Homo sapiens: one gene and its partners. The protein of the gene in region 2 purifies or fractionates together with the protein of the main gene of each other region. This does not show direct contact. Each region holds a gene or a part of one and is shown on either strand. Other genes may lie near its edges. The genes, in order: SLC4A1AP, TTC33 and SKIC3.

Evidence for each region.
Region 1: the proteins of TTC33 (region 2) and SLC4A1AP purify together in Homo sapiens (affinity purification with mass spectrometry, with the first as the bait; one large-scale study listed by BioGRID). This does not show direct contact.
Region 3: the proteins of TTC33 (region 2) and SKIC3 purify together in Homo sapiens (affinity purification with mass spectrometry, with the first as the bait; one large-scale study listed by BioGRID). This does not show direct contact.

The regions. Positions count from the first base shown.
Region 1 is NC_000002.12:27,670,252-27,673,907, forward strand, and holds part of SLC4A1AP (kanadaptin), read left to right. Parts: intron 1-3,656.
Region 2 is NC_000005.10:40,728,354-40,732,009, forward strand, and holds part of TTC33 (tetratricopeptide repeat protein 33), read right to left. Parts: intron 1,991-3,656; coding exon 1,909-1,990; intron 124-1,908; coding exon 1-123.
Region 3 is NC_000005.10:95,516,882-95,520,537, forward strand, and holds part of SKIC3 (superkiller complex protein 3), read right to left. Parts: intron 442-3,656; coding exon 265-441; intron 180-264; coding exon 35-179; intron 1-34. UniProt on the Homo sapiens protein: Component of the SKI complex, a multiprotein complex that assists the RNA-degrading exosome during the mRNA decay and quality-control pathways.

The DNA of each region.
Region 1 (3,656 bases), on a different chromosome or scaffold from region 2:
CCTCCCAAAGTGCTGGGATTACAGGCATGAGCCACTGCGCCTGGCCGTATCACGAATATTACATCAATACATTAATATGTATCAATACATTAATTGTGTATTTTGCTTTTTTTTTTTTAAAGTCTGAGTAGAGCATCATTTATTAATAAGGCTTATATTATATTTTTATTATTGCAAAGTAACTTATGTCTGGTTCAAAACTACCAAAAGGCTTATAATAAAATATACTTGTTCCTTGCCCTACCCATCCTCAGTCTTCTTCCCTAAAGGCTTTCAGTTTTTTCAGTTATTTATTCTGGCATTTAAAAACACCTGTATTTCTTGGCCGGGCGCGGTTGCTCACGCCTGTAATCCCAGCACTTTGGGAGGCCAAGGCAGGCGGATCACGAGGTCAGGAGATCGAGACCATCCTGGCTAACACGGTGAAACCCCGTCTCTACCAAAAATACAAAAAAAAAAATCAGTTGGGTGTGGTGGCAGGTGCCTGTAGTCCCGGCCACTTGGGAGGCTGAGGCAGGAGAATGGCGTGAACCCAGGAGGCAGAGTTTTCATTGAGCCGAGATCGCGCCACTGCACTGCAGCCTGGGTGACAGAGCAAGACTCCGTCTCAAAAATAAATAATTAATTAAATTTAAAAAAAAACAACAAACACCTGTATTTCTTTTCTTTTCTTTTTTTTTTTTTTTTTTTGAGATGGAGTCTCACTCTGTCACCCAGACTGGAGTGCAGTGGCATGATCTTGGCTCACTGCAACCTCTGCTTCTCGGGTTCAAGTGATTCTTCTGCCTCAGCCTCCTGAGTAGCTGGGACTATAGGTGCGTGCTCCACACCCAGCTAATTTTTGTATTTTTAGTAGAGACAGGGTTTTACCATATTGGCCAGGCTGGTGTCGAACTCCTGACCTCATGATCCGCCTGCCTTGGCCTCCCAAAGTGCTGGGATTACAGGCGTGAGCCACTGCGCCCAGCCTAAAAACACCTGTATTTCTAAGAACAAGAGTATGGTGTTATATTTTTAGTCACTTATTTTAGACGTTACCTGTCGACTCTGCTAAATTAGTATTTAGTATTTACGTGATTATGCTTATGCAAATATTAGTTATAACTGAGCAGTTTTATTTCTTTTTGTTTTTCCTAAGGGTAATAATTGCGTTTGCTTTTCATGTGTTTGGGGCTTTTTTGTATTTCTTGCTCATTCCTCCCACACCTTTCAGTAGCCTCACCACATCAAACAACTTAATGATTAAGTAATTTATCAGTTCTGATTTGTTTTGGAGACACTTTTTCTGAAGAGCACTATTTTTCTTTCAGGGCTTATTGCTCTGCAGATCTGCTACAGAACTGTCACCTGGGACTTAACTTTCCTATCATCCTTAAGATTTCTTTGTCCTTTCTCCAGGGTTGACTTTTCTGTTTCTTGATTCTCATATTCTCATATTTCTTGGTTTATTTCCTTGCACAGTAGTACATCCTTCTGTACTTTTAGCAGATTAAAAAGCTGGTACAACACTAGAGGGCATGGGTGATGATAGTCTTCAATGAATTTCACATCTTTCCTTTTCTTGGTCTACTCTCTTGTTTTGGTGGACATCCTCTAGTAGATTTCAGAGAAAGAGTGTATAGGAAATAAATTTTATTAATCCTTCTCTTCTGAAAATATAATTATTGTAGCTTCACTCCTGATTAATAGTTTGGCTGGGAATACAATTCTAAGTTGGAAACAATTTTTCTTATTTTACATTCAGTGTTGCTTTTGAGAAATCCTAAACTGTTCAGATTTTGATCCTATTGTATGTCATCTTTTTTTTCCGCCTTGCCAGAGCTTGTAAGAGTTTCCCTTTGTTCTAAAGGTTCTAAAACTATGAAGTACTTTTCTGTGGGTCTATTTTTCTTCATTTTTCTGGGTACTTGTTGGATCCTTTTGATCTAGAAACCTTGGCTGTTCAGGAAGTTTTCTGCAATTATGTCATTAATTGTTTCGTCCCTCTGTTTTCTATGGAATTTTATTATTCAGACATTGGACCTCTTGGACAGACCATTTAAGTTTTTTTTCTTCTTTTTTTCATCTGTATGTCTTTTCCTTCTTGAGAGATTTCTGCACCTTTATCTTTCTGTCTTCTCTATTTTGCCATCAAGGTTTTAATTTCTTTCTCTTTTTTTAAAGTTTTTAAAATCAGGCAGTCTTTCATGCCAGAGAAGGCTCAGAGACTCCAAGGTTTTAATTTCTAAAAGTTCATTTTTGGTTTTTGAATTGTCCTTTTTAAAACATAATATCCTCTTGTTTCATGGGTTGTAAATATCTCCTCTCTGTTTTCTCCATGTTATTTTTCTTTTTATGTGGTCTCTGTTCTGCATGTTAAAGGCTTTTCTTAGGTGTCATGTAATTCTTCATTGTAGTTTTTTTATTTGGGGATGAAAAAGGTGATTGACAGTTTGGAATATATAGGTGGGGTTTCTGCATGGAATATATAGGTGGGGTTTGTTGACTTTGAGCAGTACTATTGAATGATGTGGGTGGGCCTTTTGTTGGGGAACCCTTGATTTAAGTATCCTTTTGGTTTTCCTCGTCTGTGAGCGAGATTCCCCAGAGAGTGCTCTTCCAATCTCCTGCCTGAAACGAAAGGACTGGCTGCCAGCATTCCTAGAGCTAAGTGGTAGAAGGTGGCTGAGTGGCTTCTCATTCAGCTGTTTTCAGGACAGTACTATTTTTAGATTATAGTGCCCATGCCTTCAACTTTACTAGTCAACTCGTAATCCAAAGGCTTTCTGTTTTACCCTTTCCAGAGATTAACCTCTGGATTTCTACTGCAGATGGAAAGGAGATGAGTAGGCAGGGAGGAAGATCTATTTCTCAACCAGTTTTTACTTAGTCCTCCATAACCTTAGTATCCATCCCCAGTTGCAGATCCGTTTGAGGATTCTGCAGTGTAATCACTTTGGCTCTCAGCTTTCCCCACTGTTTAGGATTTATCTTTTTAAATTCTGCTAAGTTAGTTTCTACTCATCTGTCTACTTTCTAATTTTCTAAAATTTGGGTCTTTATGAATTTCTTTCTCTCTCTCTCTCTCTCTCTCTTTCTTTTCTTTCTTTCTTTCTTTTTCTTTTCCTCCTTTCCCTCCCTTCTCTTTTTTCCTTTCCTTTCCCTTACTTTCCCTCCCTCCCTCCCTCCCTCCCTCCCTCCCTCCCTCCCTCCCTTCCTTCCTTCCTTCCTTCTTTCCTTCCTCCCTTCCTTCCTTCTCTTTCCTCTATGCTGCCCAGATTGGAGTGCAGTGGTCTGATCACAGCTCACTGCAGCATCAACTTCCGGGGCTCAAGCGATCCTCCCGCCTCAGCCTCCTAAGTAGCTGGGACTACAGGTGCACACCACCATGCCCAGCTACTTTTTTTAGATTTATTTTTAGTAAAGGCAAGGTCTTGCTATGTTGCCCAGGCGTGGGTACATCTCTTTACTATGGTTTATTGGGATTTAGGGAAAGAGGGAAATTAGATATGTGTGTTTAATGTACCATCTTAACCTGCAAATTAGGCTTATATTAATAAGGACTATTTTCCTTGCAAATAATAGAAGTCCAATTCAAACTAGCTTAGGGGAAAGGTCATTGGCTGCAGAAGCTGGGAAGAATAGCTCAGGATGAAGGAACAGGAGTGAAGGAACAA
Region 2 (3,656 bases):
CTCTCCTAAACCAAGTTGAGCACGTCCCAAAGTCTGCCAAGACTCCCATGAATGTGGATTTTGCTGGACGGCCATTTCTGCTGCATGTACTGCTGGGAACATTTCATGAAGAGACATTAGCACCTATAGGCAAAAAAAGACCAAAAAATCTGTCAGTAATATTCATAAACTAGCAACTACATAAAAAACCCTTTTCATTTTTTAAGATATATTTTTAGTCCAGTAAAAATAGCATTTCGGTGATTTTTACCCCTTACTCTGCCATTCAGGGTAAGAAATTATAGTTCTCTTTTCACCCCTTATATAACTATGAAAATGTAAACGATTCCCTTTCCAGTTATTGAATCTTATGTCCATCTGGTCAAAACCAAGTGGTCATATCCTAACTATGGTGGCTCAGAGGTATTTTGAACTCCCAATTCCACTTCCATTTATTCTATTTACAATGTGGTTTTCAGGGAACCCCAGGTATTGCCATTAAACTAGGTGAATTAATTTGTTCAACCAGCCATCCCGTCCCTAATGAACATCTTTATGTTATAAAAAGTATTTAAAACATTCCCTAGGCCTTCTCACTACTGGGCATTTCAAACCATACATACTAGGAAGGTAGGGTTAGGGTTAGGGTTAGGGTTAGGGAGAGTTAGGGTTACCAGAGAGTTCTAGTACCCTCCACTGTGGTCTGTGGGAAGAGGCTGGATTTTATCTATAATCTTTAGGACCATTAACACTTTAAAAGATTTGTGATACAAACATTATTATCAGGTTCCAAATTAAACAAGTCTTCATAAAGCTTGCCACAAACCTGTCATTCATATATACATATTTAAGATTGAAAAAGGAATACAAATGAAGGTCCTCATATCACTTGATTCAGATGACATAATTTATTTGGGTTTTTCCTGGATAAACTAAAGTCAAAGGTGACAAATGTGTGTCCTATATTTGAGATCACGATTTGAAAAATATTTGTTAGGTGTGCAGATTAAGGCTGAATTGCAACAATTCCCTGCCAAAAATATGTTTAATGCTCTGTGTGAGACTTTTAAAATCACTTGGATAACCTATTCAAGTGCTCAAAGGTTTTCTTTACAGACTTTCCTACAAAATATTAGAAACATGTTTTTAAAGTACAAATGTTATTTTTAAGCTATTAATAAAATTGCATCTATGCTGACCTTTTGCTAAGGACTAAGCCATTTTTAGAAATATCTCATCTAGAACCCAATCCATCCTCATTTTTAAGAAAACTGAACTATTTTGCTAAGTCTACTATATTTAATCACAAGGAAAGCGTATGTTTTTCATCTAAGAGCTCAACAGTGACTTTTTATTTATTTTTTATTTACTTATTTATTTTTTTGAGATGGAGTCTCGCTGTGTCACCCAGGCTGGAGTGCAGTGGCACTATCTCAGCTCACTGCAACCTCCGCCTCCCACGTTCAAGTGGTCCTCCTGCCTCAGCCTCTCAAGTAGCTGGGACTACAGGCATGTGCCACCACGCCCAGCTAATATTTGTATTTTTAGTAGAGGCAAGGTTTCACCATGTTGGTCAGGGTGGTCTCGAACTTCTGACCTCAAGTGATCCACCCACCTCGGCCTCCCAAATTGCTGGGATTACAGACGTGAGCCATGGCACCTGCCCACCAGTGACTTTAAAAGATAGCCACCGATTCCTATCTTACAATAGTTAGGCTAAAATAACAGTTAACTTCATTGTAAAGGCAAATGAATTTCCAGTTTTATGCATAAGACAGAACCATAAATAATGGTGAAATATTTTTTCCCAAAGAAACCGTATTTGTAAAAGAAAATGGGAGAAAATGCTATTTTGCTTCATCATTGCTCACTCACCGAACAAACATAGCACAATTTCATAAGGAAAGTGAAATTCTTCATAATTATTACCTGTGATTTCATCTCGTATAGGGTAGCATCATTTGGAGTTAACTGTAGTGCTTCATCCCACTTCTGAATTGCCTCCCGATATCTGTGGTTGTTAAAGTTATATCAATGCCATATTTTCAATATGCTTTTTTGGACTTTCAAAAAAAAATTTTTATTGTAGTAAAATATAAAATTTACCATCTTAACCATTTAAGTGTACAGTTCAGAGGCATTAAGTAGCATTAAGTACATATAGTTCATTCACCTTTGTGTGCAACCACCACCACCATTCATCTCCAGAACTTTTTCATCTTCCCAAACTGAAACTCCATACCCATTAAACAATAACTCCTCATTGCCCCCTCCTCCACCCCCGGGCAAACACCATTCTACTCTTAGACTGCTTTCAGGAGGAGCAGTCATGTACTTTCAGTTCAACAGTTTTTTGGACTACTTTCTAGTCCATGAAATATATGTAAAAATCCAAAATAAAGGATTAGCAAATTAAGTCCAGCAACTTACTAAAGTACAAAATCCACATGATCATGTAGTGTATGCTCAGAAAAACTTAGAAATGGGTTCATATGTAACAGATAAGGGAGAAAAAAGTACATGCCACTAAACAATACTTAGTATAATTTAACACCCATTTCTGATTATTTATAATAATAATAAAAGTATATACAACATTAAATAAATTTAGTACTGTGGTGCCATCATCTACTAAGCTTTAATGATATAACCTCTAAAAGCAGTAACTATATCACCTAAAAAGAAAGTACTTGCACTTCTTTAGGCATATTGTGGGTGATTTCAAGCCTCTCTAAACAATATTTCCAAATGTTATTGTAGATGTGACAGGAAAAACTTTGGAAATTAATTTATTGATGTATTCCTTCATAACAATCCTTCCACTCACAATTTTCTAACAAAGGTAGCAGTAATAAATTCTGCAAGACTTAATAGTAGCAAATGTCTTTCCTCCAGCATTAGAAGGAAAAGGTTGGACTGTTTGTCCAATCTTTTTTCTACCACTCCCTACACATACCTGTGCTCCACTCAGCAGGGTTTTTATAGTCCCTACCCACATATCATGCCTTTGTTAGTATGGATCCCCTGCTACACATACACACACACACATCTGTATTAGTTCACTCTCACGCTGCAATAAAGAACTGCCCAAGACTAGGAAATTTATAAAGGAAAGAGGTTTAATTGACTCAGTACCACAGGGCTGGGGAGGCCTCAGGAAACTTACAAGGATGGCAGAAGGGGAAGCAAACACATCCTTCTTCACATGGAGGCACGAGAGAGAAATGAGCGCTGAGCAAACAGGGAAGCCCCTTATAAATCCATAAGATCTCGTGAGAACTCAGTGTCATGAGACCAGCATGGCAGAAACTGCCGCCATAATTCAATTATCTCCACCTGGTCCCATCCTTGACACGGGGATTATTACAATTCAAGGTGAGATTTGGGTGGGGACACAGAGCCAAACCATATCACATATCTAAGATTGCCTTCCTACTCCTCTTCATCTATTCAAAGGCTCCTCCTCTAAGACCAAGTTAAAATGCTCCGTTCTTCATGAAGACCTCCTCCAGTGGCTCTAGCCCACTAACTATGAGTACCACTTCAGACCACATAGCAACACTTATATTTCCAAAGCATTTTATGTTTTACAAAGCACTTTCAATACAATTATTTAACATACAATTATTTTCCCAAAAAGTTAATTCACTTACTACTCAAAGTAAGTGAATATAAAT
Region 3 (3,656 bases), about 55 Mb from region 2:
GAAAAGGTTTATAAAAAATTTATTTATACCATACATGTAAAGATTTCTCCAGCAACTCCTTAAGATCATTCATGTTGCTGCCTGTTTCTGCTAGATGTTGTGCTTGGCGATAATAATTAATTCCAAGGTCACACCATGTATTAGATGTAGACATCAGTTTTAATGCACGACCATAACACCTACGGGAATATAAAAGTGAATGTTTTTTGTTACAATGCCTTAATTCAATTCAAATGTTATTAACTGGCAATCTTTGCAAATTACCTTCCTCCAAGGTGGAGGAGCTCATTTTTCTTTAATACTTGTTTTCCTTCTTTCTGACCTAGAAGGACTCCTAAAACATGAACATTCACTTTAGATGGTGCGACAGCATACAGACAGGTACAAGCATCCCCAGCTAGCTTCCAGAGGCAGGACACATCAGCTCGATGCTGTAGAGCACTAAAAAAAGAAACATTGTGATTCTTACAAATTATTTATAAAAAGCATGAAGTTTATCTCCCTGATTATTACTTAAAACAGAAAAACTGTACATTAAGTACTTTACTAGTCTCCTCCTAACTGAATCATATCATATCACCTCCCTAATAGGAAGGGAAGAAGAAAAGGAGAAAGGGAAGGAGGAAGGGATTACTTTAAGTGCCAGAAATTTTGTGGACACTTTTTTTTGTTACTCTTCACCATTTTTATTAGAAGTAGCAGCAATCACGCAAATAAATAAATAAGTTTTCCAGGACCAATTTCCTTTTAATATTAAAATGTTAAAACTATGCTTTTTGTGTTTAAGCAATGACCAAGGCAGTAAAGTTTGTAACTCTCTTACAACTGACAGTTGTAAACTCAGGTTTTTGCTTTTAGATCTTCTCTCATGCTGTGTAGTTTTGACTACATCCCCACAAAGCTCATGAGTTGGGAACTCAATCTCCAGGACAACAATGTTGAGAAGTAGGACCTTTAAGAGGTGATGATGTCATGAGGGCTCTGCCTCCCTAAATGGATTAATACTGTTATTGTAGGAATGGGTTAGTTGTCACAGGAGTCAGCTCCTGATAAAAGGGTAGGTTCAGTCCCATTTTTTTTCTCTTGCATTCTGCCCTTCTGCCATAGGATGACCCTCACCAAGATGCCAGCACCATGCTCCTGGACTTATCAGCCTCCAGAACCAAGTCAAATAAACTTCTGTTCTTTGTAAATTAACCAGTCCATGGTATTCTGTTATGGCAGCAAAAAATTGATGAAGACACCTCAAATAAAATATACCAAATATATTTGGTAAGATCTGAAAGATTTTTGTAAATTTTATTTTTTAATTGGCATAACTATATATATTGATGAGGTACAGAGATGTTTTGATACATATAATGTATTGTGATCAGATCAGGGTAATTAGCATATTAATCATCTCAAACATTTATAATTTCTTTGTGTTAGGAATGTTCACTATCCTCCTTCTAGCTATTTGAAACTATATATTATTGTTAACTACAGTCATCCTACAATGCTACAGAACACTAGAACTTATTCCTCCTATCTAGCGTAATTTTGTGTCCTTTAACAAGTATTACCCATATATCCTTTCCCCCTACCCTTCCCAGCTTCTAGTATCCTCTGTTCTACTTTTTACTTCTATGAGATCAATTTTTTTTTTAGCTTCCACATATGAGTAAGCACATATGGTGGTTAACTTTCTGTTCCTGGCTTATTTCACTTAACATAATGTCCTCCAGTTCTATCCAAATTGCCTTAAATGATAGCATTTCATTCTTTTTTATGGCTGAATAGTATTCCATTGCATATAAATACCACATTTTCTTTATCCATTCATCTGTTGTTGAATATCTAGGTTGATTCCATATCTCGACTATTGTGAATAGTGCTGCAATAAACATGAGGGTACAGATGTCTCTTTGATATAATGATTTTCTTTCCTTTGGATAAGTTCCCAGTGGTGGGGTTGCTGGATCATACGGTAGTTCTATTTGCAGTTTTTTGAGAAAACTCCATACTGTTCTCCACAGTGGCTACACTAGTTTGCATTCCCATAAACCATATAAGAGTTCTCTCTTCTCCACATCCTTGCCAGCCTTTATTTTTTGTCTTTTGAATAACAGACATCCTAACTGGGGTGACATGATACCTTACTGTGGTTTTGATTTGCATTTTCCTGATGATTGGTGATGTTGAACATTAATACCCTGAGACCAAAAAAAAAAAACAAAAATCTAAACATAAAAATCTGAAGAACTACATTTACCGAAACAAGAGCAGACTGAATGAACAAGCTCAAAAAGCAAAGAGAAATATTAATTATGGTGACAGAGGGCAATTCCTTTTAGAATGAGAAAAACTTCAGCTATACATTTTTCTTCATTTTTCTCTTCTCGAGATCTTATAAATAACACATGGCAATTTCATTTAAGCCAAGTCTCAATAATCAGCTATCACAAGCTGCTATGTTACTGGCAGATGGAAAAGCAGATGGAACATTTTTCATAGCCTTTTCTACTCATGGAGTCCAGCCAAAAATAATTTTCCAATGTCTTCCTAAGAAATAATATTAATTATTGTGGTCATAACTAAAAGCCCACTGAGAATCTGAAAGAAGGGCAATATGATTTGGAGTTCCTTTGCCTAAATATCTTAGCAAAATTTCTAAAATTGACAGCAAAAAATGAGAAGAGAGGAAAAAAGTGAAACAGGCGATTTTAAGAGCCTAAATTCTTATTTTGAGTTCAATAAAAATAAAATATCTATAAATTGAAGTAACTTATATCACCCTTACACAATAATTGTGATAGTATTAACGCCTTGTAAGTCTGGAAGTAAATATACATTTGGAGATTATAATTGTTTTATATGCCACCTTCTAATGGGTTATGTTACATGTTATCCAGAATAACATTTCCTAGGCTCAGAGAGGCAGTATTTATAGCTAAGGTACTGTCACCCAAAGGTTCACATTTACTCTTAAATAGCAGTTCAAATAAAGCATGCCCTTTACACAGTAACTTTCCCTTTAGAAAGAACTACATTATGTGAGACTTGAAAAGTAGCAATAAAATTCAGTGAGATAAAAAAGGGTTAGGTTTTCATTTCATATTTGGTTCATATGAAAAGCAATTCTGGAACAACCAATAAATACAAAACAGAGGAGAAACCAAGCAGGAAAAGAGGGGAAGTAGAAGAAAGATGTTTAAGAGTTACAAAAAATTCAAATGTACATCTAACTTGTGGACTTTTGGAAGTCTTCTACCACAGATAACACTTTTTCTGACCTAACCAATGAATTCACAGTTCTATAAAATGCCAAATCTACTCAAAATTTTCTGATTCCTTTCTTGTTATTAGACACATCACTTTTTTCCTTCACAGTTTCTCCTCAGGAGCAATCAGATTGTCATTTCCCCTTACCTTCAAGACCTACTAATAATCCTACAATTGGCTCTTACCACTGAATGTACAGCATATTGAGCACCTGAAGCCCTATTTCCCAATCGGTTCCAATTAAAGATACTCATTTCCAGGCCTACTGAAAGAGAACACTAACACATGGTGTCAGAGCTGCTGTTCCACTAGCAGACTGCTCCTTCCTTCCTATTCTTTCCTATGCATCTAGGATGCCAGCCACTACTAAGAGCAGAAGAAATTATATCTGT